4 linked regions of the Homo sapiens genome follow. The protein of the gene in region 4 interacts with the protein of the main gene of each other region in a biochemical or structural test. Each region holds a gene or a part of one and is shown on either strand. Other genes may lie near its edges. The genes, in order: PARD3B, LIMK2, DLG4 and RPS6KA1.

Evidence for each region.
Region 1: the proteins of RPS6KA1 (region 4) and PARD3B interact in a test that uses a peptide from one of them, tested with the Homo sapiens proteins (2 studies listed by BioGRID and IntAct, with this or other methods).
Region 2: the proteins of RPS6KA1 (region 4) and LIMK2 interact in a test that uses a peptide from one of them, tested with the Homo sapiens proteins (2 studies listed by BioGRID and IntAct).
Region 3: the proteins of RPS6KA1 (region 4) and DLG4 interact in a test that uses a peptide from one of them, tested with the Homo sapiens proteins (2 studies listed by BioGRID and IntAct).

Annotation. Positions count from the first base shown.
Region 1 is NC_000002.12:205,115,460-205,122,481, reverse strand, and holds part of PARD3B (partitioning defective 3 homolog B), read right to left. Parts: intron 3,562-7,022; coding exon 3,436-3,561; intron 892-3,435; coding exon 533-891; intron 1-532. UniProt on the Homo sapiens protein: Putative adapter protein involved in asymmetrical cell division and cell polarization processes. May play a role in the formation of epithelial tight junctions.
Region 2 is NC_000022.11:31,215,294-31,222,315, forward strand, and holds part of LIMK2 (LIM domain kinase 2), read left to right. Parts: intron 1-7,022. UniProt on the Homo sapiens protein: Serine/threonine-protein kinase that plays an essential role in the regulation of actin filament dynamics. Acts downstream of several Rho family GTPase signal transduction pathways.
Region 3 is NC_000017.11:7,214,606-7,222,346, forward strand, and holds the start of DLG4 (disks large homolog 4), read right to left. Parts: upstream 3,023-7,741; 5' UTR 2,569-3,022; coding exon of another isoform or gene 2,543-2,568; coding exon 2,513-2,542; intron 1-2,512. Other genes in the region: ACADVL (very long-chain specific acyl-CoA dehydrogenase, mitochondrial), read left to right, coding at 2,541-2,568, 3,111-3,213, 5,517-5,592, 5,859-5,924, 5,999-6,071, 6,161-6,225, 6,319-6,453, 6,933-7,077 and 2 more. UniProt on the Homo sapiens protein: Postsynaptic scaffolding protein that plays a critical role in synaptogenesis and synaptic plasticity by providing a platform for the postsynaptic clustering of crucial synaptic proteins.
Region 4 is NC_000001.11:26,546,739-26,553,760, reverse strand, and holds part of RPS6KA1 (ribosomal protein S6 kinase alpha-1), read right to left. Parts: intron 6,895-7,022; coding exon 6,778-6,894; intron 6,573-6,777; coding exon 6,491-6,572; intron 2,365-6,490; coding exon 2,284-2,364; intron 2,118-2,283; coding exon 2,038-2,117; intron 371-2,037; coding exon 264-370; intron 1-263. UniProt on the Homo sapiens protein: Serine/threonine-protein kinase that acts downstream of ERK (MAPK1/ERK2 and MAPK3/ERK1) signaling and mediates mitogenic and stress-induced activation of the transcription factors CREB1, ETV1/ER81 and NR4A1/NUR77, regulates translation through RPS6 and EIF4B phosphorylation, and mediates cellular proliferation, survival, and differentiation by modulating mTOR signaling and repressing pro-apoptotic function of BAD and DAPK1.

The sequences.
Region 1 (7,022 bases), on a different chromosome or scaffold from region 4:
TGAAAAAGATGAAGAAAGAAAATATTATACATGCTTTTGAAATTAGGTATGTTTTAAATGTTTGTGACGTTGAATCAGAGAAATTAGTAAACATTACATATTTGCTTTCTGAGGAGTAAATTTTTGTTGTTAGAAGACTGTCTTAGAAAAACAATATGCTTTTTGGACATGGCCTAAAGGATGCTTCAAGAATCACTAATCGTGCTCAGAACAGGGACAACTGAATTTTCATGCCTATTTGGTATTAAGTTGTAATACAATATTGCTCTGTTGATATCAGGTTTGCAATGATTCTTTCCACTTCCCAACATGTCTTTATTATTTTCTTGTTTAAAATAATCTATACACTCCGAAGAAAAGAATAAAAAAGTACAATTTCAAGAAATTTAAGTTACCTAAGTATACACTTAAATCTATTCTTTGATACAATTAAATGAAGGGAGAATTAACTAAATTAGCCTTAATGCATTTCTCTTAACCAATTTTACATGTTACAATAATAGAATGCTATTAGGCATAATTTAATAATTACCTTTCTTTAGGTCAATCTTAATTTTCTTTGCATTTTTATTGCTGCCAAATCCCATGAGAGGCGAGAGTGAGGGAGAGGATGGTTTTCCTCCCAGCCTTGGTACTCGGGGACTCTTGTTTTGTTGCAGGGAAGCTGATGCATCTGTTTCAGGACTATCGGTTCCTGTGAGATTTGCTGTCTTTAGTCCCGATTTTCCATGGACAGGAGGCGGCACTTTGGTTTTCAAAACGCCATCATTATTACCAAAAATGTTAAGAGAGCCAATGACTGACTTTTCATACTGTTCACGGTTTTGTGGAGGAAGCACGTGGAGGAGCACACTTGGAGATTTCATTGCCTGGCGGAAGACATCTTGAGCCCTGGAAAGAAAGTTGATAAATGTATGATGACCCTGCTTTGAGGTGCAGCATCTTCTAAAGTACCCCAGGAGGATGGCAACCAAGAGCAGCACAGTGGCTAATCATAGGAGACACGATCAATATTCCTATCAGAATGACTTTGCCAACTACATACTAGTTACCACTTACTATTTGCACTAGGTGCCCCTGCACTAGCTTATACATGCATTATTAGCATGCATCCTTCTCTAATTTAGAAAGCACATTCGGTAAGTATAAATAGCTTTCATTTCACGGACATGGAAGTTGAGGCTCAGAGAGATGAAATAATTTATCCAATGACCCACAGCTTTTACATGTTTCTAAAGATGAAAATCTAACCAGAAGTGATTACCAAAGTGAATATAAAAAGCAAAATAGATATTTTGGATCAGATCATTAGTTAGGTTTCTTTTAGGACATCCTTCTAAAGTACAGATCTTCTCTAACATGGGTTGTGTTACACAAGTTCAAGTTTGACATCCATGTTTGCTCATGGAGACATTTTGGCAGGTGCTTTGGCTGTGCCAAAATGTCTCAGTGGAATTTCAATCCAACATGCACCCTTCCTGTTACTCTCACACAGAGCAACTGTGTTTTTCACTTTTATGACCTAACACTTTGTGTTCTTCCTCAAACTTCTTATAACATTTTCTTCTTCCTCATGCCTCTAGATGCCCTGTGCCCAGGTCAAACAACTACCTTTCCCACTCTTTCTTGCCCAGAAGATATAAATGAAGGCGTTAAAGGAAAGCTCTTTAGAAGCGGCTGGTTCAGTAGAGAGACAAAAACTTTTATTGTTCTCCTGTTTCTCTTCCCTATTTCTTGAAACTCAGAAGTGACTGAGGAAACTCAGCAGCCATCTTGTGCCCATTTTTCCACTGAAGGATAGTAGCCACATGGCGAGATGGCAAAGCAGAAAACGGAAGCTGCCTGACCCACTGGCGGCTGTGCAGCTGCCGCACTAACTGTGGAGTGCCCTCTTCCACGTTTGCTTGTTGCTAGGAAAAATTAATGTTAATCTTGTTTCAGCTATTCTTATTTCAGGTCTCTGTTCCTAGCAGCCACAGCACATAATAACTAATCATAATCCCAACTGCAATCTGATTCCTTAAACCCTACCCCGCACCCCCCTTTCTGAAGTGCTTAATTCTGCAAATTGTTAGGGGAGAAGGAAGATTTCACATAGGCCTAACTCCACCTAACTCCTGTGGTCAGTTCCCCTATGTTATTTTTGCTTGCATAGGAATCAGTTTCTACTCCATACTAACTCTATACTAAATTTTTATGAGCCTCAGTTTCCACCTCTATAAAACAGAAGTAATAATGATTGCTTTGCATAATTATCAAGTCCTTGTGAAAAAGCACAGTAGTATATTAAAAATTATTACTAACTATAGTTTTGTCTATCATTCATTATTTTAACACAATAGATTCTTCTAAGGTTTCATTTCTTTTCATACTTAGCAGCCAGTACCCACTTTTCCTCGACCCACAACCACTCATCTTTGTCCACAAACACGCATACAATATTGACAACTAATGCCCAGCGAGAAGATGTATTAGGAGCTGTTTTGGTCAGAAACAAGAGGGTGGTGATGACTCCCAAGGATTATTAGTACTTAGTCCTTTGGTCCAGAATCCCACTGCAATGCCAACACACATTAAAAAAATATGCATCAGATTACTATACACTCTAATTCCTGGGTACAGGAAGCTATTCCCTTAACATTTTCACATGCAGAAAGATGATTTCTTGAGGGAGACAGTATTATTTATTTATTTATTTTGAAGACGGAGTTTCTCCCTGTCACCCAGGGTGGAGTGCAAAGGCGCGATCTCGGCTCACCGCAACCTCTGTCCCCCAGGTTCAAGCGATTCTCCTGCCTCAGCCTCCCAAGTAGCTGGGATTACAGGCGCGTACCACCACGCCTGGCTAATTTTTCTCGTACCTTTAGTAGAGATGGGGTTTCACCATATTGGCCAGTTGGTCTTGAACTCCTGACCTCATGATCTGCCCTCCTCGGCCCCCCAAAATGCTGGGATTACAGGCATGAACCACTCCGCCTGGCCAGGAGACGGTATTTTATTTTTTCTGTTTGTTTCTATGATTCGGTGAGTCCTCAGACATCTCTCACAGATTTTTTAGTTTAAGGAAGACTGCTGACACCAAGAAAGTTAATTAATAAGCTGAACCAACAGTCTGTGAAAAGAGCCGTTAAATACCAGTTTAAGTGACCCATAGCCCAAGAAAAACAAACCCGTTCAACGACGCCCCAGTAAAGACAGCCAGGCAGGAAGGCTTGTGATATTCTGTAGTTTAGCATTCTCAGACCTGCCAGAGACATGTGTGGGCCACCTTTGAGTAGGCTAAAACATTAGAAGCATTCGAAAATGGATATCCTGGATCGTTCAAAGGGAACTGACTAGAAATTCTACCTACTATTTTGATCATAATGAGTTCAGTAATGCTTATAACCATGCTAGGGATCAAGAAAGTAAATAAAACAATGAAAAAATGCTTACTGAGCAAAGGTTTTGTCTACGAGATCCACATTGTTGATTTTTACAATACATTCATTTTCGTGAAATAGTCCCTCCCGCTTGGACCTGCTGTTGTCTTCAATGCCTCGGATGAAGAGTCCTAGAATCCTAAATGCAAAATTTAGATTGAAATATAATTACTGAATAATAAATGCTAATTATTTCTCCACTTGCAACTATTCAGAAATACATATTGATTTCTATTTACAAAAGAAATTTTACTTTATATTCAGGCAACTGTTTGTTATTTTAATCCCTAATCCAAAAAAAGCCAAAACTGACTACAAGAGAAAAAGCCCTTCTAGATAAATATGCATAAGTACCAACATCAATCTGCGACTTCATTTCTCATGCTTGCAGTAAACTTATTGAAAGGCTAGTTTACTGGAGTTGACACCAAAGACTTGTGGTTTGGAGAAGGGCATCACACCTGACTATAGTAAGTCTGAGTTAGTGCCAACGTGGCAACGTGATGTTTAGCAGTGGGAGAGCATTAGGATATTCACAGTAACATTTTTGCAGTCTTACTACCTATTCTAAAAATTTGCATTTTAAGAAGTAAAGAAACATTTAAGCTCAGATCATATTACTCAGTTTAGAAGGAAGCTGGATCCCATTTGTTGGTGCTACCAAATCAAGTATGTGTTGGGTGTTTCCTGTGTGATCAGGATGGAGGAGTATGAGACAAAGTCATAGGACCAGGACCAGGTAATTTCACTATACATTTGGGGGACAGCTGAAGTCCAAAAACTAAAGACATTAACAAGCCTAGAGCCTTCAAAGATTTGAGAGCTAACTAGATGGGAGACCAGTGCCACACACAAAGGCTTTGAACAAACAGCCAATGAACTTAATCTGATGGACCTGGAGGGGGGCATCTAGCAGACCCCGCTTCCGAGTAGGGCAGCGACATGATGAAGGCAGGCTTTGGGAAGAGTTGTCCAAAATTTCAACCAAGAAGAGGCTAAATTAGAGAGGATACAAAGAGGCCTCTGGATTTTTGTGGCTGTAGCTTAGAATCAGGAGGGTTGGAAGAGAAGGAAAGAAGAAAGAAAACTATAGCCACTAGAATTAAAATATGTGTGTGTGTATGTGTGTGTGTGTGTGTGTGTACACACATACATACACAATTCTGTTACATATATAAACCAAAACTAAACCAAAAACCGTAAGAAATGGAACTTATACATATTTTCATTATTTCTTATTTGTGGGATTTCCCTTCTCCTCGTGATGTGACAAGGCTTAGCTGTGTCCAGAGTAAGAAAGATAGATATGTCCTGCAAGAGGAGTCTGCTACATTTGGAGAAACTGTGATCTGCACTTTATCAATACTCTTGCTTTTCGACTTTGTCACTCTCTTTTGTATAAAATCCATGTGTGCTATTACAAAATACCTTCACATTAAATTTCAAACCTAAATAAAACATGAGTACATTTTATGTGTAAATAACAGGGTCAGCCATAGAAAAGGGGAATCTACAATGCAAGTATTAGAGAAAGTAGTCCTCCTGTTTGGAGTGGCCACGGAGTTGAACCTCTGTCCCCTTAATGAGCTCCCATCATCTCAAGACCTCAACAGGCATGGCAGTGATATTTGGGTCTCACTTCAAAATGTTAAATGAATACAGCACGCTGCTGCAGGAGAAAGAACAGCAAACAGCCATGCCATCTACTGCAGGGAAGGCTCAGGGTCATAGGCACAAGTGTGCAGTGGGGTCTTGTGGTTCATTTCCTAGTTCCAGTAGGTTAGCAAATTAGTCATATTCTGTGTTACTTTAATCTTGAAACACAGTATTAAAAATGAAACTATTTGACACATTAAAATAATAGATAAAACTTATGGGTTTTTTCCCTAAATTAAACAGCATCCTAAGAGTTCACATTTTGGATTTTTGTTAGGGTGGATTCACAATAACTTGATTCATTAGGAGGCTCACATGTGGTTATAAACGTGTTTATGTAAGTGATATTTTTTTAACAAGCATTCAAGTCTTCCTTTAATTTAATTCAGTACATCATCAGTCATGTAATGTTACTCCCTAGGATTTAATTTCACATTTTGGGAGATGAATTAATTCTTTCGGGCCACTGGGTTGCAATTTAGCTGGCATATTACAGCTGGAGTATGCTATGTGAACCTCACTGATCTAAATAATCTAACTTTCCATGAAAAATTTATTGACAGAATAAGCCCAACTGTAAAACCCATGTGTCAGAGGTAATTTTGGTAAAATGTAAAACTGACTGATTTTATTAGTTTGGTCCCTGGCAACAAACCACTTCTGCCCTCTCTGCTCCGTGGAAGGGATAGATTCCCTCCAGTTTGATTTCATCCAGACCAATACAAGAAGGCTCAGAAAACAATACCTCATTATCCTCTTTGCCCTGAACTGGTGGGCTGTGGTAGCTGTCTCATTTGGGACCAAGACTCGCAGAATTTAAAGATTAATGCTGTCGAGGAGTTATAGGCCGAGACTAACCAGTTAATTTGCATTAATGAACAGTGATAAAGGATGCTGAAATCCACAGCCTCACAGAATTAGAGGGGTAACAATTCTTCTTGCTCTTCTAATTATCATTTAGGCACCAACATCTTCTCCTTGCCCCCTTCCTGTTCTTTTCCCAATGTCACACAGCCTCAGTGACTCTACCAGCTTAGAATTTTGGTTTGAACATCTCTTCTCACAGTCTTTATCAGCCTTCATCCAGTCCTTCTCCTTCTCTCTCCTGTTTAGCTGTCTTCCCTATGAAACTGAGGCATATTATGCATCTGTACTGAAACGAATTAGATTTCATGTTTTTAATTCACAAAAACCACATTGATTTTAAAAATCTGAATAAAATTAAGTTGCATTTTAGTTGCAAGAACTTTGGTGTTTTTTTTATGTTTGCTTTGTTTTTACTGGGAAAGCCAATGGCCCTCAATACAAGCAGCATTCAGCACCCCTCTGCGATGGTATCTAATGAATTCATTGAGGCTTTATCTAGCAGAGCAGCCACTATAATTTACTTATTAGGATGATCTAACTTAGATTAGGTTTCTTATTCAACAACAGGTGTGGCAACATTTTTCTAAAAGAAAAAAAAATAAAAAAATACATTGGAGGCAAAGCCAATTACAGTAATCTTAGTAAAAAAATTAAATGTAAATTCTAATTTAAAATAATGGCACAAACCAATAAATGGAAGGAAATTAAGAGCAAAGTATACCACTATGACCTTAACGAAGCCCCTGTGCTCACACAGTGAAACCATATGGCATTATGAAGTCAGACACTTGTCTGACATGCTCTATACACAGTTGCATCTAGACACATGGGTTGAGTTAAGCGTGCTGTTTCAGCCTGTACTCATTACTCCTTAACTTTTATTGGCTCATGTCTCCACTTCCATAGCATTTTTAATGTTTTTTAATTAAATTTCCTTCCTATAATACTGGTGGATAGCAAAAAATAAATAATAGAACTATTTCACCAAGTTACTGAACAGTTAACCATGAACTTATAATAAAACTACATTTCTGAATCAGGCTTTTTGGTTTTAGCCAAAATAATCATCAGACTGAT
Region 2 (7,022 bases), on a different chromosome or scaffold from region 4:
ATTCAAACCATGTTCTGAGACACCTCAGATTCCTCGTGTAACCGGAGAATCGATAACAAATCAAATATTTACTGAGTGCCTGTGATGTCTGTGGCACTGGGCAGGACCAAGTTTTACCTCTTATAAATTTTAACAGGTGTTAGAGCCAGGAGAGAGTTTTGAGATAATGTATAGTCTCCTTGTTTTACCTATGAAGAAACTGAGGCTCAGGGAAAAAAAACGGAGTTGTCCAGGGTCACTCAACTAGTGGTAGAGCCAGAACCAAGGTAAGACTTCTGCAGTGTTCTTTCCAGTATTCCAGGCTGCTTAAGACGTACAGGGTCTGGCACATGGTAAGCCCTTAATAAGTATTTGTGGAAATGAGTTATATATAGTTTGTGCCTCTGAGAAACTTACTGTCTAGTTAAGGTAATTAAGGCAAAAAACAAAACTGCCATGCTGATCAGTAGTGGGATTGCGCCTGTGAAAAGCCACCGCACTCCAGCCTGGGCTACATAGCAAGATCCCCATCTCTTAAAAAAAAGAAAAAAATTGATAAGACAAGCTGTTATAAGGCTTGCGTATGATAACATTATAGAATTTCAAAGATGAGGGAGAATTCTCTTCAAACATTTATTCCACAAATATATATTGAGTTCCTGCTATGTGCTAAACTCTTTTGGCCCCTAGGGATACAGCAAGGAACAAGATAGACCAAATCCCTTCCCTCATGTAGTGTATGTTCTGGTGGGGAGAGATAGACAGCAAGTAAATGTATGAACATCATATTCAGGGATAAATCCATTGAAGAGAAGTGAAGTAGGGTAAGGGGATAGAAGAAGTGAGTTGTCAGGGAATGTGTTTGGCATGTTTAAAGAATAGCAGGGTATCCAGGGTGGCCATCAGTTTTGGTTAGGGAATACTTCTTGAAGTGGGTAAGACTTGAGAAATCTTAAATAGGCTTAAAGAAGGTGGGGAAGATGATATCTTAGTAGGGAAGAAACTTTGGGAGTAGGAGACAAAAGTAGGCAAGTTTCAGGTCTTCATAAAGGGTAGCAAATACGTGTGGTAGAGGCAAGGATTGGGAGGTGGAAGATTCATAGGAAGTGGAAGGTACAGCTGAGAATGTGGGTGCAACCGGACTAGAGGGTTTAATGCCAGGCTGAGGATTTTGGAAGTTTCTAGTCTACAGTAGGCACCGTAGGTTTAGAGAAAGGAAGACTCATGATGTGGGCACAGGGCCACCAATCTGGAGGTGGGTATAGTGGGCCCTGAGATGAGGTCTTAGTGGTAGCAATGAAGAAGGCACCAACCAATAAAAGATGCCTCCTGACATAGGCAGGCCAGGGTGACTTGGATGGTCCTGGATATGTGATGGAGCAGGGTAGGGTCCAAAATGACCACAAGATTTCAAAACTAAATAAAAATCCGTCATGATCAAGGGGCTGTATTAGGCTTTCCACATTCATGGTGGATTTTCTGCATCTTCTGGAGGCTGAGCTGATTCCCAGAACAGGGCTGCCTTCTTGTTAGTGTAACCTTGAGCGGGTCTGATAGGGCCCACCATCACACACATCTCATTTCAATGAGAGGACCTGAAACTGTAGCAGTCTCTTACAAGTCTACCTTCTTTCTCATCCTTTATCTATTTTTATATAGTAGAAAGAATTAGACTATTTTACCTATTAATTTACATTGAATAGTAACTAGAACATGAAACCAATGCCTGGTTTCATTAAAGTGTTCCTTGAACATTCTTTCTGGGATTCTTTTTTATCATGTCTTTCTGCCTGTAATTTGTTTTGTCCAGGAAAGAAAGTCTAAAATGTAGTTAAAGACAGGCTTTGAGCCAGGTGCAGTGGCTCACGCCTGTAATCCCAGCACTTTGGGAGGCTGAGGTGGGTGGATCACAAGGTCAGGAGTTCAAACCAGTCTGGCCAAGATGGTGAAACCCCATCTCTACTAAAATACAAAAATTAGCCGGGCATGGGGGCAGGTGCCTGTAATCCCAGCTACTCGGGAGGCTGAGGCAGAGAATTGCTTGAACCTGGGAGGCAGAGGTTGCAGTGAGCCGAGGTTGCACCACCGCACTCCAGCCTGGGTGACAGAGCGAGACTCCGTCTCAGAAAAAAAAAAAAAGACAGGCTTTGGAGACTAGACCTGTGGTCTAATCCCAGCTCAAACATTTATTAGCTGAGTATTTCAGTTTCCTCTTCCGTAAAATGAGAACAATAATAGTTCTTTAAGACTAGTCCTGATCTCATGGGATCTTTGTATTCAGTTAGCTCATACTTGCGTAGTGCTTAGGACATTGTCTGGCATAAAGTAGTTTTTTTCCTCTATCATTGACAACTGGCAGAGAACTGCTGTATGAGAATATATCAATTGGTTAACCAGTTCTCTGATAAAGATATTTTTATAGGCCCTCCATAGATAAGAAAATGCCTACTCATTCACAGTTGAGTGAACTTCTGGTTGGAAGTTGCAGTCTGGGTGGCCTGAAAGACATAAGAACCATCTGTCTCATTTGTCACTGCAGTGTATTTTGTTAATGTACTGAGTTTGCCTTGCCTGTAGCACCTGGTTTGTCCCTCTCTGACATGTTATTTCTGTGTATATCCATGTCCTTCACACCCCATGAGTACACACCAAGGGCCCCAGTAATTCCTGGCCTACTCTGTGCCTTGTACATGGGCACATAGAAAAAAGTTTGCTGAGTTTGTTTTGAAAACCTTCCCTTCAGATTTTAGAAGTTTCTGTATTCAGCTTAACCTTTTCCCCAGCCAACTTCCTAGATACACACGCAGGAAGGAAGAGAAGTTAGTCACAAATCGGTCCAACTAAGTGCCTGGCACCATGGGAGATATTTTCACATCTATTACATTATTTCTATTAATCCACTTGGTAATCCTGTAAAGCAGGTGGTATTATCCTCTTTTTAAAGATTAGGAGACAAGCTCAGAGAGGTCAAATAATTTGCCCAAGGACACAGAGGCAAACAGTGACAGATTCAGGTTTCAAACACACATACATTTACCCCTCACAAATTTTTCCAAATAAACCAAAGAAGGGAAGAAGAGAATAACAGCAAGAAGGAAACTTTCTGAGATACCTGTGTCTGTGCCTTAACCTGAAAAAGGAGAGGCCCTTGGTTTGGTGTCAGTCTCTCAGAGCTGGAAGAAATCACTTGATCCCTCCTTTTACAAAAGAACAATCCAAGGTTTAGAGAAGCTCGAAAGCTCTTTTAAAAATCATCTAATCTTTTTTTTTCCTGAGACACTCCTTTTGGTAAAATTTGGTAAGCTAGTGAGGAAGAAAACCCTTTGGGTTACAGGGAGAGTATCTAGAGGCATGTTAATCCTTACTGTTAGTCTTTTTGATAGTCACTTCATTAAAATGTGATCTTTTTCTCTTGGCTTTTCCCCAGCAGCTGCTGCCCTGCCCTTCTGCTTTCTGCTTTGTCCCAGAACAAGTGGGATTTATACACCTGACCCGCCAGTTCCCAAGGGGCCCAGGGGTTACCATACTTGTTTTATGCTGCACTGAATTGGCTGAGTTTTGTTCCTGGTTCTCGTTGTCTGGTGGAACGTGAGAAGCTTCAAAGATTTTTTTAAATGAAAGGATAGGATGTTGATTTAAGCTAGGCATTAGAGTCTCATGAGCTCTCAGTGCTTGAGGATTTCTCACCATTTTGAAGCCTAAAAAGGACTCATTTGCAGAAACCAAGCTCTTAGACCAAATTTAAGGTGAACATTGTGGGGACTGCATTGGCTCTGAGCTGGGATACCAGGCCAACCCTTCCACTGAATAGCTGTGTGTTCTTGAGCAAGTCTCAACTTGTCTGAGGCTGCATAGGGTATTAAAAATATGACTGGCATGGTAGTCTCTGAGCATGGGTTTGAATCCCTCCTGGACCATCTTTCAGTAGCTTTGTGGTGGTTAGGCAAGTCTATTTTCCTTCTTTTTTTTTTGGCGCCTGCCCCAGTGGATTCACATTTGTTTGAGGGCCACATTGCTAATTAAGTTGGGAGAGAGAAGCATTCATAAAGTGAATGTAAAGTGAATGTATTTTATACCAAGATTGAAAAGGTCTTAAAGGTGAGAACCCCTATAATGAGACATTTGTTGCAGTGCTCACCTTACGTTGCACAGTTGCACTTATTAAAAGCAACAAATTCCAATAATAACTGAAAACACAGTTTTCTGTTTATTAAACACCTAATAAGGGTCCTTTATTGTTTGAAGGTACTGTGAACATTTACTTAAATCAAGCTCCTTTTCTGGACTCTTCTTTTTTTTATTTTATTTTATTTTTTTGAGACAGAGTCTGGCTCTGTCGCCCAAGCTGGAGCGCAGTGGCACGATCTCGGCTCACTGCAAGCTCCACCTCCCGGGTTCATGCCATTCTCCTGCTTCAGCCTCCCGAGTAGCTGGGACTACAGGCGCCCATCACCATGCCCGGCTAATTTTTTGTATTTTTTAGTAGAGATAGGGTTTCACCGTGTTAGCCAGGATGGCCTTGATCTCTTGACCTCGTGATCCACCCGCCTCGGCCTCCCAAAGTGCTGGGATTACAGGCGTGAGCCACCACGCCCGGCTCTTTTCTGGACTCTTAACAATCAGTAGCCACTGTTGATAAGTCTGCAAATATGAGAGGTAAACACTATAGAGGGAGAGAATGAACAGCCTGGTACAATGAGATATTTTCTTAAGAAAGAACTTCCCAGGCTGACTGGACTTTGGATTGATCCTCCACTAGGCTTCACAGAAATCCCTAAGACTTTGCATTACAGTATTACATTTCTTTTACATTTCCTAGAATAAAGGTGGTAAGAGAATAGATCAATGAATTTTTAAGACTGTAAGAGAGCTAAAGAAGTCAAGAGTGTTCTCTTGAAGAGGGTCTGGGCGTAGGAGGCTGTGTGCTTTGGGTGAATATCTTTGCTCAGGTACTTCCTAACAGAAAAGCAGTGTGAATGCATAACAGGTAAACTGAGGCCAGGTTTATCCACATGAGACTACTCATAGGTAATCTGGGAGCCAGAACAGTTATTCCAGTGGAATCATCTGTGCTGACCTTTGGAACTTATCTTTGGAAATTGCTTTTATAGCTGGCAGTTGGATCCAAATTTTCAGTTGGGTTCACCACACAAAGGAATGTCTGTTTTGCACCAGGCCCAAGGTTAGGCCCTGGAGATAAGAACATAATAAAGATACAGTTCTTACACCTTAGTTCTCTGAATGGGGTGTGGGGGAGGAGAGTGGAGAGAGAGGGACTGAAGGAGAGAGAAACATATGCAGTGAACTGTAATTAAATAACAAATTATGTAAAATAGGTATAGACAAAATGAAACAAACACTGCCTGATTTTAGGGAACTTTAAAGAAAGGATAGAAATTTGATTAAGGGGCCGGGAGCAGTGGCTCACGCCTGTAATCCCAGCACTTTGGGAGGCCGAGGTGGGCAGACCACCTGAGGTTGGGAGTTTGAGACCAGCCTGACCAACATGGAGAAACTCCGTCTCTACTAAAAATACAAAATTAGCCGGGCGTCGTGGCGCATGCCCACAATCCCAGCTATACTCGGGAGGCTGAGGCAGGAGAATCACTTGAACCTGGGAGGCGGAGGTTGTGGTGAGCCGAGATTGTGCCATTGCACTCCAGCCTGGGCAACAAAAGCAAAACTCTGTTTCAAAAAAAAAAATTTTTTTTTTGATTAAGGGAAAAGATAGAGAAGCTTATACATAGAGAATAACTGGAGGTGTGAATGTCAGGATGCAAGTACATGAATAAAAGTGGCAGGAATAGAAAATAGGTCAAAATGTAACTAGAGCATTCTTTTGTAAGGAATGGTGAGAGAGAAGGGTCCTTTGGGACCACATTGTAAGGACCATTTGCTCTTTCAGTAACTGTTTATTGAAGGATTGTAGCAGACCAGGGGCCAGACATGGTTTGCTAGCCCTTTGGAGGTAGCAAAAGCCAACTTTAATGATGTGTGAGAAGTTTTTGTTCCTGCCCCAGGGCCTTTGCACATGTCCCCCCTCTCCAGTGTTAGCCTTCCTTCCCCCCTTTTTTGCCCCGTTAATTTGTATTCATCCTTTAGAGCTCAGCTTGGAAATTACTTCCTCAAGGAATACTTTGGCCGCCCGCCCTTTTCCTAGTTATGAACTTGATATCTTCGTACCACTTGCCCCAATTATAAATAAATAATAATAATAATTATTATTTTTTGAGACAGAGTCTCGCTCTGTCGCCCAAGCTGGAATGCAGTGGAATGATCTTGGCTCACTGCAACCTCCGCCTACCAGGTTCAAGCAATTCTCTTGCCTCAGCCTCCTGAGTAGCTGGGACTACAGGCGCCCACCACCATGCCTGGCTAATTTTTGTATTTGTAGTAGAGACAAGGTTTCACCATATTGGCCAGGCTGGTCTCGAACTCCTGACCTTGTGATCCACCTGCCTCAGCCTCCCAAAGTGCTGGGATTACAGGCGTGAGCCACTGCGCCCGGCCCTCAATAAATAATTATATTATTGTTTAATATTTGCTTTGTGTTTAATCTCTCTCTTGTTTGCTCCTCTTTCCCCAACACAGTGTCAGATGCATAGTTGGCATGCAATAAATATTTGCTGAAAGAATGACTGAAGCGGGTCCATTGAATTTAGCAATAAGCAGTTACTGTTACTGTTGACCTTGGTGAGACAGTTTCAGAGAAATGGTGGGGGTGGAAGCCAGATTGCAGTGCATTATGCAGAAAGTGGGAAGTGAGGAAATGAGGGCAGCGATGTGTAGACAACTTTTTTTCTTTTTTCTTTTTTTTTGAGTTGGAGTTTCACTCTTGCCCAGGCTGGAGTGCAATGGCGAGATCTCAGCTCACTGCAACCTCTGCCTCCCGGGTTCAAGCCATTCTCCTGCCTCAGCCTCCTGAGTAGCTGGGATTACAGGCATGCACCACCATGCCTGGCTAATTTTGTATTTTTGGTAGAGATGTGGTTTCTCCATGTTGGTCATGGCTGGTCTCAAATTCCCGACCTCAGGTGATCCAC
Region 3 (7,741 bases), on a different chromosome or scaffold from region 4:
ATAGCCTCAGTCTTTCCCCCACTGTATCCCCACCCCCACTTGTTCTGCTCCGCCTTCCGCCACCCTCGCCCGGCCCTCCAGTCCGCCACGCAGCTTCAGTCGTCGCCGGTTACCATGGCAACGGCGGCAGCAGCGCGGGGAAAGGGGGAGGGACGGGGGCGGAGTGGGAGAAAGAGATGCTCAGAGACGAGAGATTCTGGCAGAGATAAAGGCACCAAGAAAGACAAAGTGATCGCTGTAGAGTGGAGTTTGCACACAACACAGGGCCTAGCACGCAGTAGGCTTTCAATAAATGTTCCTTAAATTACTGCGGCAGGAGTCTAAATATAGGCAATGAAAGATGGAAGACTCAGGCAGAGCTGGGGAGCTCAACGACCGCAAAGCCTGAGCACTCCCTACCCCATCCAGCATTTGGGGAAGCAGGAGCCATGTGCCCCCTGCAGGCTCCTCTTGGGCTACCCTCCGCTGGCTGCCCTGGATAGAGATGAACCACAACTCCCAACAGCGCCATGGGCAGCAACCCTCTAACATTGAGGGATCTGGTGCCTCGGGGCCTTATGGGAGTTGGAGTCCCCACCATACCGAGGCTGACAAGTTTTCCAGCCAAGGAATGTGGCAAGCCTGGGTCTCCACGCCTCTGTAAACCCCAAATGCATGATCTGCTCTGTAAGCCTCCTTCCTTCAGGGATGCTCAACCCTGGGCTCCATGGAAGAAGTAGGAGTCTGGAGTGGGTAATGAATAAGGCCACCCACCCACCCAGAATAGCTGCCTGCTGGCAAGCCCCTCACCCTCGCTCCCATTTGTGTGTTCACGTGTTGGAAGCAGAGCCCACACATTCCAGCGGGCTTTCTATTTACACCTGGAATGCAGGGGACCACAGCCATGGAGCCTAAGGCCAAGTGACAGGCCTAAGGGCAGGAGACAGCGGGAGCAGAGGAAACCAGGCCAGAGAAACTGAGGCATAAAAATCCACCGAAACTACAGGGGATGTGGGGAAGAGGCAGCCTGGGAGAAAGCCCGAAACCCACAGAATGAAGGACAAGAAAGTCGCCCTGGTGGAGAGAGGGTGGGGGCTCCAGATCTAAAGGTCCTCAGCCCCCAATCTCTTCCAACCATCCTCACACGTGCACAATGCATGTGTACACACATGTGTGAGTTTGTGGCAGGGAACATGTGTGTCCTCAGCTCCCTCCCATGAAAAGCTGCAGTTCCCACTAAATATAACCCCCTCCCCAGCCTGTGACTCACCCGGACCCCGCCTCCCCCGGCCCCCACTTCCTGTCCCACCCCCCAGCCCCCAGCTGCCTGCCACCCGCCCAAGCCTCCCTCCACACACCAGGCATCCAGCTCTCCAGTCCCAGAGTCTCCAAGGAGAGCCTAGGTATCTGCATCCCACCAGGAGCTCGCCTGTGCTCCATCCGAGATCTCCTGCCTTTGCCAGGCTCCAACCAGAGGGACACTCTTGCACAGATCCCCATCGCTGCCAGCCCTGCCCTCCTCCTACACCTTTTCACCCCAGTAACCTCAGTAACTTCGGTCATAAGCCCTCAGGGACCCTTAAATCCAGGTGTCCTCCCCCACCTTGATCCCAAGCGTCAGGGGTATCTGGAACAGTCCCCACATCTGCTCTTCTCCCTCTCTCTTGATCAGGGCTAGATACAGTGTGGGAGGAGATGGGGATATTGGGCACCTGCCTTTGGGCCACCCCCAAATTGTGCACCACCCACCCGGTCCCCCTCCTCAAATCCCCTCTCTCCCTAAGCCTCTCATCCTCCTCCTCAGGGGCTGGCAAGCTCGGCTGCTGCAATCTTCTGCCTCCTATGGGAGTACCCCCAAATCCTTGCCTCACCTGGTCCATTCCCTCAGGTGATCCCATGCCAGGGCCCCAGCCCTCTGACAACTTCCAACTACCTCCATTCTATATGACTGAACCCTAAATTAACAGTTCCCTCAAATTGAGAGAGCATCCCTAAATGCAGCCACCACGAGATGCTTGTTCTAGAGTCTGAAGGCCCACCCCTTCCCTGCCAGCTGACACCCCCAGATCAGTCAGGCACTCACAACCAATAACCTTTACCCCATGCCAGGAGCCCCCCAAAACTGGACAAGGCCCTTGGAAGCCAGCTTTTCCCTGGGGAGGAAAGAGGAACCCCCCAACATAGCCCACCTTCCCACATACACCAGCAGGACTCCCTTATGAGCCAGGCTTCTCCTTAAATAAGTCTCCCTCAAACAGCGCTGATGAACCCCCAAACCCGCCAGGCCCCCCGAACCATGGAATATCCTAAATTTTCCATATCCCTACAGGTACAAAGGGATCACTCCAGGGGGCACCTGTGGCCAAATCCTGCATTTTCTCAGATGTGAACCCCAAAACTAAATTAAGACCCCCAAATACATCTTACTTCTGATGCTGCCACTCCAGGGGCGCCAGTCCCAGATAAGGCCTACTAACCCCTCCCCACAAACTCATACCCTCCCCCCAGTTTATAGCCCCCCCATCATGCTTACCTTGGTTGTCACTATACAGAGACAGTCCATGTTGGGGGGCCTGGCCGCGGCGGCGGGTAAGGGGCTCTGACTTCATCGGAGTTTCGTTCCTCCCCTCCGTGGGTTCTCACCCCTCCCCCCTCCGCACCCCACTTTTGCAGGGGGGGCCAGGATGGGGGGAGGGGTGAGAGGGGAAGGAGGGGGTTGGAGAAGGGAAGGGGAGGGGAGCGTGGGAGGGAGGGGAAGGGGGCCCTAAAAGGGGCTCCCCAGTGGAGGGGAGGGGGCTTGGGGAGCACACCCCGATTCTCAGGAGGGGCGGGGGCACCGGGGGCTGGCAGCCCCGGAGTTCGGGGGCTGGGGCATGAGCTGGGGTGGGGGAGGGGAACTGGATTTCGGGGAGCCCCGGGGTAGGGGGGGGTCTTGCCAAACGGCCAGGGGCTAGGGGCCGTGGCGGGGGAGTGGGGTGGGGGGGTTGGAAACGGCAGCGGCCGAGGGAGCCGTGGAGCCGAAGAGGGAAGGGGAGAGAGGAGGAGAGAGGAAGCAGGGGGAGGGAGGGAGGGAGCTAGGAGCCAGAATGGGGGGGGTGCCTTGGCAGAGTTAACTCCTTCTGTGCTGGCAGGAACCCGGATAATGGGAAAGGAGATAGAAGCAGAAGCACAGAGGCCCCTGAGGCAAACATGGAGACCTGGCCAGCCACCAGCGATGACAGCAAAGACGATGAGGCTGGATTTCATTTCTTAGAGAAGGAAGCATCTATAGTTGGGCTGGGAGCACCCACGGTTATTTGAATACGGGAGGGAGGCCTCTCGGCAGGCGGTAGGGGGTCGGGTGTGAGGGAGGAGCTGAAGGAGGCAATCCCTGGGGGCCTAGTTCTCCCTCAGGTTTCTCAGGGGGAAACCTAAAAAGTTAAGCCCTAGACTCTTTAGTGCCTGAAACTGGGGCAGCCAAAGAAAACGAGGAAGAAAGGGAGAGTGGGTACAGGACCACAGAGAGTGCATTCTCGGTGCCCCAAGTCCCTGGGCCACTGACTCAGGCTTTTGTCAGCAGGGCCCCCAAGATTCCAGGTAATATTAGTGATATTTGGCTCACCCCTCCAGCCCTGCCTGCCCCTCAGGAAGTTAGGCGCTCGCCCCCACCTCCTTACCTGACTCTCTGAGAGGGAAGCCTCATAATAGTCCAGGATGTCTGTCACAGGAACAGAACTGAGTTACCTCCCCACCCCAGGCCTCTCCAGGCACATCACCCCTGTCATCACCGCTGCTGGCTGGCTGGCAAGGGAGGAGCCCTTTCAGCCAAGGCTGGTCCACACTCATGGAGGACACCATAGGCAGGACCCTGCATGGTGCTCCAGCTTGGACCAAATGATCTCTGGGCTCCCAAACAGCCCCCGAAGTTCAGTAATGGCCCTTGGAGGCCCAGGTCCCTCAGAAAACGGGCTACTCACCCAGCAAGGCCTGGAAGAGGTCGCTATGCAGCACTGTGAGGAGTGGGGGTGCCCACCGCAGCAGTGGGGGTGCCAGGAGCCAGAGGGCTGACCTGGGAGCTAGTGAGATGCAAGGAGAATTGGGACAGGGAAGATGCCAACACAGGAAGATGAACACACTGTCACTTCATCTCCCCAGACTGTGCCCTTCACCCCAGCCCCTACGGAAAGATTTGGGGAGAAGGATCTCCGAGCCCCAGCCCCCCACTTCGCTCCCAGACCTCCCCTCCACAAGGAGCCCTGTTTTTCACCTCTTGGTCTCTGGGACATCTCTCTCTTCTCTCACTTTAATCTCCCTAATCCTCCAGGATTGGAGTTGAGCTGCTTCTCCCCACTAAATTCCAGCTGTGAGTAAAGTAGGCCGTCTCTGAGCCGACCAGCTGTCCCATTCCCCCAGGTCCCAAGGCACCAGCACCGCCACCATCTTGCTCCACACACCCTGGCCCCCTCTTCCCATAGGCAGGCAGAACCTAGCCACGCTCTCCTGAGAAGCCAGCAAAGAGGGCCTCCTCACAGAGGGCTCCAGCAGCTCAAAAAGAAGCTGAGCCCAGCTCTCTCTCCTCCTGGGCCTCCTCTCACCCCAATGAGAATTGCAGAAAAAGGGGTAGAAATTGTTTGGGACTTCCTGCCCTAGGGCTAGAGAAGTTGGGGTTTTACGGGTAAGAGGCAGGAGAATTCCTGCAGTTCCTCTCAGGCCCGGGAGGAATCCATCTGCCTGGGCACATGGTCTCTGGAAGGAACAGAGGGCAAAGACAGAAGGGAATGTTCAGGAAGGTCTCAGAGGCTTTACTAAGGGAGGGGCAGTGAATCTGGGGGGGTCTTCCTACTGTGAAACTGTAGCTGTTCCAAGAGTTAGTGAATGGCCTACATCTCAGAAGAATACACTTAGGGTACTCACACCCTAGCTTGGGTGCCCCCCACCACTGTACCCTCCCTTTTGTGTTGGCCGAGATAGATTTCATCAGGAACCCTAGAGTCTGTCTTTCCATGTCTCTGCCTCTGCCATCTACCTTACACTTCTCTTTCCCTACTTTTCCCTTCTAACCCCACCGGAGAAGCCCTCCCTTCAGTCCACCTCCATCCCTCTGGCTGCAGTGACTTAAGCCCCTTCCTCTTCTGTCCCATCCTATCCCATCACCCCGTCGGAGGACTAGACTCTAGGTCGGACGGGCGGGATTAAGGAGTTTGGGGGAGACGAGGGACGCTTGGAGATCCCTCTAAGTCAGCGGAACGCAGGGCCGGGCTCCAGGGAACTACAGCTCCCAGCATGCCCCGGGGCCCGCAACCGTCCGCCGCCCGGTGCACTGTGGACGATGAGTCAGGGTTAGGGGCGCCAGGACGTGGGCGTGCAGGACGCCAGAGCTGGGTCAGAGCTCGAGCCAGCGGCGCCCGGAGAGATTCGGAGATGCAGGCGGCTCGGATGGCCGCGAGCTTGGGGCGGCAGCTGCTGAGGCTCGGGGGCGGAAGGTCTGTGTGTGACAAGAGGGACGGTGGGCAGCGGCCCTGGGCACCGGGCCGGCACTGAACCCCCACTCCCCACAGCTCGCGGCTCACGGCGCTCCTGGGGCAGCCCCGGCCCGGCCCTGCCCGGCGGCCCTATGCCGGGGGTGCCGCTCAGGTAAGTCACCGCAGCCTTGGCAAGGGGGTGTGGGAGCGGCGGTCCGCTTCGGCGCCCGCCATCGGCAGGGATCTCCCTCTTGGTGCCAGGTACCTGCCTACTGCTCAGTCGCCGAAAGTAGGGGAAAGGGCAAGCCAGGGTGCCCTAGGGCGAAACTAGGGGAAAGGTCACCGCTTCGCGCCGCCTCCCCGCGCGGCTCTCGCCTGTTCTCCCCTTGACACAGCGGAAGTCCCTTCCCTGAACTTGCTAACCGTCTCTTTTCCCAGCTGGCTCTGGACAAGTCAGATTCCCACCCCTCTGACGCTCTGACCAGGAAAAAACCGGCCAAGGCGGTAGGTAGCCCCGAGGCCAGGTGGACCTTAGCCAGACCCAACCAGAGCCCTGAAATTTGCCTCTCTCTGCCCAGGAATCTAAGTCCTTTGCTGTGGGAATGTTCAAAGGCCAGCTCACCACAGATCAGGTGTTCCCATACCCGTCCGGTAAGGGAAGGGATAATCAGAGCTGGGTGGGGCCAGGGTGGTTTCCCCTGCCAGCCTGGCCTGACCAGCCTGTCCCCCACCCTCTGCAGTGCTCAACGAAGAGCAGACACAGTTTCTTAAAGAGCTGGTGGAGCCTGTGTCCCGTTTCTTCGAGGTAAGGAATGACTCGGGGCTTGGTCCCTGGTGAGGTGTTTGGAGATGTTAAGCTCAAAAGGAGCCTGGATGTGGGATCCTGTGCCTTCCCCAGGAAGTGAACGATCCCGCCAAGAATGACGCTCTGGAGATGGTGGAGGAGACCACTTGGCAGGGCCTCAAGGAGCTGGGGGCCTTTGGTCTGCAAGTGCCCAGTGAGCTGGGTGGTGTGGGCCTTTGCAACACCCAGGTGAGGGCGCCCTATCGCCACATCCCAGTATGCCATACCCCAGCTTGGCAGACTCAGCTCTTTTGCCATAGACCTAGAGACTAGGGCTAAGGTCTCTTCTAAGCACCTGCCCTGGGTGCCTGTGGGATGGATGTTAACTGTCCAAACATAACACAATTTACATGCAGTCCCCTAGGCCTGAGCCATGGGCCTCACCCTGGTTCCCAAGTCCTTACAAATCTCTAAGTTGGGGATTGCCTAACAATAGACTGACTAGTAGCAAGTCACCCTCCTACCTAGACCTAAGACAGACCAGCATTCTCTGCTGTGCCCTTTGCACACCCCACTTCTTTTCTACACACTGGGGATGGCCCAGGTCAGGCACTGCCCTAGGTCAGGAACTGCCCTAGGTCAGGAACTGCCCTGTTGCCCACACTCTCCTGTTAAGGTCAGGTCCCCCTGCAGCCAGTGACAACCCCAGATTCCTGCTTCCCCTCCAGTACGCCCGTTTGGTGGAGATCGTGGGCATGCATGACCTTGGCGTGGGCATTACCCTGGGGGCCCATCAGAGCATCGGTTTCAAAGGCATCCTGCTCTTTGGCACAAAGGCCCAGAAAGAAAAATACCTCCCCAAGCTGGCATCTGGTGAGGCAACCCTAGGAGAGCCAGGGATTGGGGGGCACACTGGGCTTGGCACAGATTAGGCCAGTTGGCACTTAGATTATCAGATGGCTGAGCATTTCAGTTGGGGGAAGGTTTTGGGGAGGCATCACAGTGTGCTGGTTGGGACATGCAAAAGAACTGGATACTCCCAGGTGTTAAGGGGGAACTGCCTGCTGGAGGGATGGGGAAGTGGGCCGAGGGGACTTTGAAGCTCATCAGAACTTGGGGTAAAGTAGCTCTCTCCCCAACAGGGGAGACTGTGGCCGCTTTCTGTCTAACCGAGCCCTCAAGCGGGTCAGATGCAGCCTCCATCCGAACCTCTGCTGTGCCCAGCCCCTGTGGAAAATACTATACCCTCAATGGAAGCAAGCTTTGGATCAGGCAACCTGCCTCCCATTTCTCCCCTTCTCCTCCGCCCAATTCCAGGCCCCACTGCTCCCCGTCCTCCACGCCCTGAATATCCCATTCTTCCACAGTAATGGGGGCCTAGCAGACATCTTCACGGTCTTTGCCAAGACACCAGTTACAGATCCAGCCACAGGAGCCGTGAAGGAGAAGATCACAGCTTTTGTGGTGGAGAGGGGCTTCGGGGGCATTACCCAGTGAGTGAATTTGGGTTGGGGGAGCTTAGGACTGAGGGGCAGGA
Region 4 (7,022 bases):
AAAGGTGGCATCTCAAATGTCACACTAGATTAGCAAAAAAAGACGGGCAACATTACCTGCATGCAAAGTACCTGGCCCTTGGTAATGGTAGCATTAGTGACTGGGCAGCTGGCACTACCACCCACCCCACTCACCCATCCCTCAGATTGCCCAAGAGAGGGAGACGTTTCTGGAGAAAGCCATGCCCACCCACCTCAGGATGGCCCTGTCCTAGAAGAGGCCTCCCCTGGGGAGGCTGGGGTGGGGCTGGAGGCTTCACTCACTTCTCAGGCTTGAGGTCTCTGTAAATGATACCCAGGCTGTGCAGGTGATCCAGGCCCAGAGCCAGCTCAGCCAGGTAAAACTTCACATCCTCCTCCGTGAACATCACCTGCAAAAGACAGGAGGGGCCTTCAGCAGGGACCTCCTCTTCCTTAAGAGCTGGGGCACTGGGCAGTCAGCAGCTTCCTGGTCCTGAAGAGCCACCCTGGGAGGACCCTTGGAAACCCCAGGCCATATAGCCTTCTCATCATACAAAGGATTTGAAGTATGAAATGACTAATACGCAAGCCACTCATTGTGGCACCATTCAGAAATAGAAGGGGTGGGAAACAGGCCTAGGGTCCAAGAGTAGAAGGCTGGAATCAGCCCTCTCCCCTGCATAATGGAGTGCTTTGCAGCCATGAACTGGAACAAGGAGTTTCTCCGTGTTCTGACATGGAGTGAGCTCCAAGATATACTATCTTGAAAAAAGCAAGGTACAGAACAGTGTATACAGAATAGTACTTTTTACATAAGGAAATGGGGGTAGGAATGAACATATATCGGATTTGTTTGCAAAAGAAACATGGGAAAGTTAAACAAGAAACCAATAAAAATGTTTACCTATAGATGGGAATAGAGGGGGCTGGGGTGGGAGGAAGACTTCTTCATGAATATTTTTCTTTTGAATCATGTATATTACCTATTCAAACATTAAAATCACAATTTAAGCCGGGCACGGTGGCTCACACCTATAATCCCAGCCAGCAGTTTGGGAGGCTGAGGCAGGCGGATCACCCGAGGTCAGGAGTTCGAGACCAGCCTGGCCAACATGGAGAAACCCTGTCTCTACCAAAAATACAAAAATTAACCAGGCGTGGTGGCGTGCACCTGTCATCCCAGCTACTCGGGAGGCTGAGGCAGGAGAATTGCTTGAACCCGGGAGGCGGAGGTTGCAGTGAGCTGAGACCCCACCAGTGCACTCCAGCCTGGGTGACAAGAGCAAAACTCCATCTGAAAAAAAAAAAAAAATTACAATTAAAAAAAAAAAAAGCTAGATTCTCTTTAAAGTTTGAATTGTACGAATGGTCCCATTTTCTAGCTCAAATCCTTTTTTTTTTTTTTTTTTTTTTTGAGACAGAGTCTCGCTCTGTTGCCAAGCTGGAGTGCAGTGGCGCGATCTTGGCTCACTGCAACCTCTGCCTCCTGGGTTCAAGCGATTCTTGTGCCTCCGCTTCCTGAGTAGCTGGGATTACAGGCACACTCCACCATACCCAGCTAATTTTTGTATTTTTAGTAGAGACGGGGTTTCACCATGTTGGGCAGGATGGTCTTGATCTCCTGACCTCCTGATCTGCCCACCTCGGCCTCCCAAAGTGCTGGGATAACAGGCGTGAGCCGCTGCGCCCAGCCTCAAATCCTTTTATATTGGTTCAAAATCCTTTTGGATGACATACGCAAGATGACTGCTAAAGTCTCTGGCTCTCTGGGTGACTTTGGGCTTCTCCCCTATCTTCACACCTCTGCCCAGAGCAGCCCTGGAAGAAGGCAGGTGCAGAGGTGAGAGGAACCCTTAGCTCCCTGGAGTTTCCTTGGGAGAAACTCTCAGAGACCTTGCCAGCGTATGGCCTCCATTCCAGGGTGCGTGGTATTTCCTGGGCCAGGGGCTGCTAGGCAGGCCTGGGTGGTTCCAGGTTCAAGCCATACCAAACACATTCTGTACAGGGCCCTGGGATGGGAGGACTTGTCGTCCCTCAGCTCCATCCCGGGGCCCTCTGGCAGTAGATGTCAGCTCACCTCTTTTGAGAGCCGGGTGAAGAGGTCCCCACCACGCAGGAAGTCCAGAATGAGATAGAGCTTGCCCTCGGTCTGGAAGGCTGGGAAGAGGGAGAAAGGCAATGGTAGAGTCGGCGCGGCCTTATGATCTGCTTCTCCGGCCCTGGCTCCCTTGGCCTGCCAGGCAGGCGGTGGGACAGTGTACAGACCACAGGCAAGGGCGAAGGATGGGTGGGGTAGGAGCTCAGGCAGGGCCAGAAGCTTTACCATAGTGCAGCTTCACCACGAATGGGTGATTTACATCAGCCAGGATGTCTCTCTCCATCTTGGTCCGGACGCGGTCACGTACTGGCCAGACGAGAAAGGAAGTCACCAGTAGCCTAGACACTCAACACAGCCACTCCCAAGCCCCCGCTAAGGGATCTCTTTTCCACTTGTTCCTCCAGGCCTGAGCTCCCAAAGCCCCCTCACCCAGGGCTTTGGGGACACTCAATCCTCAGGTTTCCTCCTTGCCAGTCTGTTTCTGGCTCCTTGGCTGGCTCCTTGTCCCCACCCCTCACAGCAGTGCCCACAGCTGGGGCCTTGGCACCCTGCCCATCTCTCTGGTCCCTTTTCCCACCAGACCCCATCAAGACCTGTTAATCAGCCAGTCTGAGCAACCTGCTCCCCCAGGGTTCTCTGCTTTGTCAGATCCTCAGACTTTGCCTCTGCACCTCCCCCTGGCATGCCTTCACCAGCTCTGCTTTCCATCTGGCATAAAAATTCCCAAATTCTGGTCTCGGGGCTGGTAAGAACGGCTACCTGGTGAGCTGGATCCCTGGGCCTAAAATCCCGATCTATGGGTCTGGGTGGGCACCCTTCATATTATTTATTTATTTTTTTAAATAATACAAGTTATTGGGCAGTTCTGATTCTCAGCAGGTTCTTTGACTCAGCTTAGGCCTCACCTTCTCCAGGAAGCGCTCCTTAATTTGCCAAGCTGGGTTAGGGCCTTCTGGATTCCTACAGTGCTTGTGCTTCTCCTTTGGAGCACTTTTCTCTTTTTCAGGTTGCCTTCTAAATTTATTGAAGCCCACCAAGTATCATGTTTTATTGATTTCACTAGTCTGATTAGAACAGGCTTTTGGGCCGGGCACAGTGGCTCATGCCTGTAATCCCAGCACTTTGGGAGGCTGAGGCAGGAGGATCACTTGAGGTCAGGAGTTCGAGACTAGCCTGGCCAACATGGTGAAACCCTGTCTCTATTAAAAATACAAAAATTGGGACCAGGCGTGGTGGCTCACACCTCTAATCCCAGCACTTTGGGAGGCCGAGGCAGGCAGATCATGAGGTCAGGAGATCGAGACCATCCTGGCCAACATGGTGAAACCCTGTCTCTAGTAAAAAATACAAAAAATTAGCCAGCCTGGTGGCACGTGCCTGTAATCCCAGCTACTCAGGAGGCTGAGGCAGGGGAATCGCTTGAACCCAGGAGGCGGAGGTTGCAGTGAGCCGAGATCACGCCACTGCACTCCAGCCTGGTGACAGAGTGAGACTCTGCCTCAAAAAAAAAAAAAAAAAAAAATTGGCCAGGCGTGGTGGCTCATGCCTGTAATACTAGCACTTTGGGAGGCTGAGGAAGGCGGATCACCTGAAGTCAGGAGTTTGAGACCAGCCTGACCAACATGGAGAAACCCTGTCTCTACTAAAAATACAAAATTAGCTAGGCGTGGTGGCGTGGGCCTGTAATCCCAGTTACTCGTGAGGCCGAGGCAGGAGAATCACTTGAACCCGGGAGGCAGAGGTTGTGATGAGCCGAGATTGCACCATTGCACTCCAGTCTGGGCAACGAGAGTGAAACTCCGTCTCAAAAAAGAAAAAAATATATATACAAAAATTAGCCAGGCGTGGTGGCATGTGCCTGTAATCCCAGCTACTCAGGAGGCTGAGGCAGGAGAATTGCCTGAACCTGCGGAGCGGAGGTTGCAGTGAGCCGAGATCACACCACTGCCCTCCAGTCTGAGCGATAGAGTGAGACTCCATCTCGGGAAAGAAAAAAAAAAAAAAAAAAAAAAGAACAGGCTTTTGGACATGGCTGCCTAGGTTCATTTTGGGCAGTGTGTTTCAACTAAGTTTATCACAATATTGATTACCCCTTGACTGAGACCTCTCATGTGTCCTTTGACTTTTTTTTAATGGGACAGGGTCTCACTCTGTCACCCAAGCTGGAGTGCAGTGGTGTGATCTTGGCTCACTGCAACCTTTGCCTCCCAGGTTCAAGCGATTCTAGTGCCTCAGCCTCCTGAGTAGCTGGGATTACAGACACACCAAACCTGGCTCATTTTTTTTGTATTTTTAGTAGAGACAGGGTTTCACCATGTTGGCCAGGCTGGTCTTGAGCTCCTGACCTCAAATGATCCACCCACCTTGGCCTCCCAAAGTGCTGGGATTACAGGCATGAGCCACCGCACCCAGCCTTGACTTTTATTAAAAGGAGAGGTGGAAGGCTAGGGAGTGCTTACTAAGACCAGACAAAATGTCTGAGCAATACACACAATGCAAAACTAAAGGCTTTTTTGGTCCATGTACTGGATTGGCAGTTTCCTCTCCAGCCTCATAGTCCCAAAGCCTTCACTAGTCCATCCATCTAGTATGAATTCTATTCATTCGTCACTGCCATTCCAGAATTGATGCTCACAGCTGCTTATCTTAGGAGATCTGGCCAATGTACTCCTCCTGCATGTCTTTCCGGAGTCTTGTTCAGGACACAATCCTTGGCCCTTGCTACAAGTAGAAGCTGCAGCTGCCTTCCAACACACCTTCTATGTCAGCACACAGGGCTGCAGGAGCTGGTCCCCTTCTTCTGTTTTAATTTTTGTGTTTTCCTCATTAGACATGACAAGGACCACACCGGAGTTAACTATTTTGGTCACCTTACATTTTCTTTTTTCTTTTTTTTTTTTTCTGAGATGGAGTTTCGCTCTCATCGCCCAGGCTGGAGTATGGTGGCGCGATCTCGGCTCACTGCAATCTCCACCTCCTGGGTTCAAGCAATTCTTGTGCCTCAACCTCCTGAGTAGCTGGGACTATAGGTGTGCATACCAGCATACCCAGATAATTTTTGTATTTTAGTAGAGATGGGGTTTTCCCATGTTGGCCAGGCTGGTCTCGAACTCTTGACCTCAAGTGATCCACTCGCCTCAGCTTTCCAAAGTGCTAGGATTACAGGTATGAGCCACAGCACCCAGCTTACCTTACATTTTCAAACCACCTCTACACTTTAGTTCAGGCAAACAGTTTCTCCTTCCCAGGGTCCCCTTCCTCAAACATTTTTGGTCTAGAGAAATCCACTCATCCTCCAAGGCTTCCCGCTCCTTAGGTGTCCCCTTGGCCTCTGGGCCCACCCTCTACAAGACTACACCACCACTCCCAGCTCCCCAGCGCGTCGGATATCCACGCACACCAGTCACAGCACCGGCTGCACCACACTGTCGGGTATGCTTAGCCTCTCCTGCCCAGCCTGTGAGCCCTTCACAGCAGGGACCCAGGCTTTTCATCTTTCTCCTCCCTCTGAAGCTGCCACCATACCTCCTGGGGGATGACTTCCACACCCACCAGGCTGGCCTTAGGATACCAAAGCCACCCATAACGTCCTTAAGGCTGACGCCTCCTACTGCCCCCACTACCTCCCCAGCTAGGATTTGGCTCTGACTGGGATCAGAGGTGCACACCACCACACCCAGCTCATTTCTTTGTATTTTTAGTAGAGACGGGGTTTCAACATGTTGGTCAGGTCTTGAACTCCTGACCTCAAATGACCCGCCCACCTCAGCCTCCCAAAGTGCTGGGATTACAGGTGTGAGCCACCGCGCCCGGCCTTGACTTATTTAAAGAGAGACTTGGCTATGACTCTGCCGGGTCAGTGGTCACACTGGTTCCCAGGCCAAGTGGTCAGTATCCAACCCAAAGCCCACTACCAACCATCTTCACACCCTTTGTAAGTCCCCAGAACTCTAACCTTGGCTCGGGGCTCCCTTCTGAACCTCTCTGCCATCCAGCTCTGTGGCCCTGCCTGGACTCACCCTCTCTTGCCTAGCCCAGCTGCCTCCCTGGGCTCCCTGCCTCTTCACTCACGCCCTTCTCTCAGGCCCCTGAGTTAGGGGCCACAGAGGTCTCCCCCAGACTCTTCTAGCATCAACAGTCAGAATGCCTCTGCTTGACCAGCTTGGTAGTTGAGGGCCCCGCCCCCTGACAAACACATTGCATTTACCCTATTACCACCTTCCAGACCTTCACAGCCAGTCACTAGCACTTGGCTTAGGGGGAGGAGGATTGGCTGGCGAGGGATAGCTGAGAAATAGGCCTGTTTCTCCACCTTTGAACTAGGTGCTCCTGAAGACAGAGCTGTCTCCCTTGCCAGACCCAAGGCCCTTGAAGTCTGGGCTGCCTCCCTCAGCCAAGCCTGGGTTCTGCACAGGGAGGTGTCCCCACTCACCTTTCAGCGTTGCCTTCTTCAGCACCTTCATAGCATACAGGTGCCCACTGTCAGGCCGGGTGACTTTCCGCACCAGGAAGACCTGAGAAGGCAGAGCAGGAAGCAGGGCAGAAGATGGGAGAGGTCTGAGTCCAGGCTGACCTCTATCTTCTCTGAGCCCCAAGCTGACCTTTTTGCTCTCCCTGGGTACCAAGGTGACCTCTGATCCTTTGGGCCCCTAGGTGACCCTTGACCCCCACCTCTAACATGACGAGTGTTGCCTTCACAGCTATGGGCTCATGACTCACTTTGCCAAAGGATCCCTGGCCCAGAACCTTGAGGAGCTCGAAATGGGATGGATCAGCCTTCTCAGAGCCAGCCTTGACGTGGTGCGTGATGGAGATCTCCTTGAGGACGCCCTCATCCTGATGGAGGGACAGAGCTGGTGGGCATGGTGGGCCCCATCCAGGCAGCAGGAGGCTCCCCTGCCCAAGTCCATTCCCACCAGACCACAGCAGATGGAACCTAAAGGCCCAATAGACGACTTCCCTGA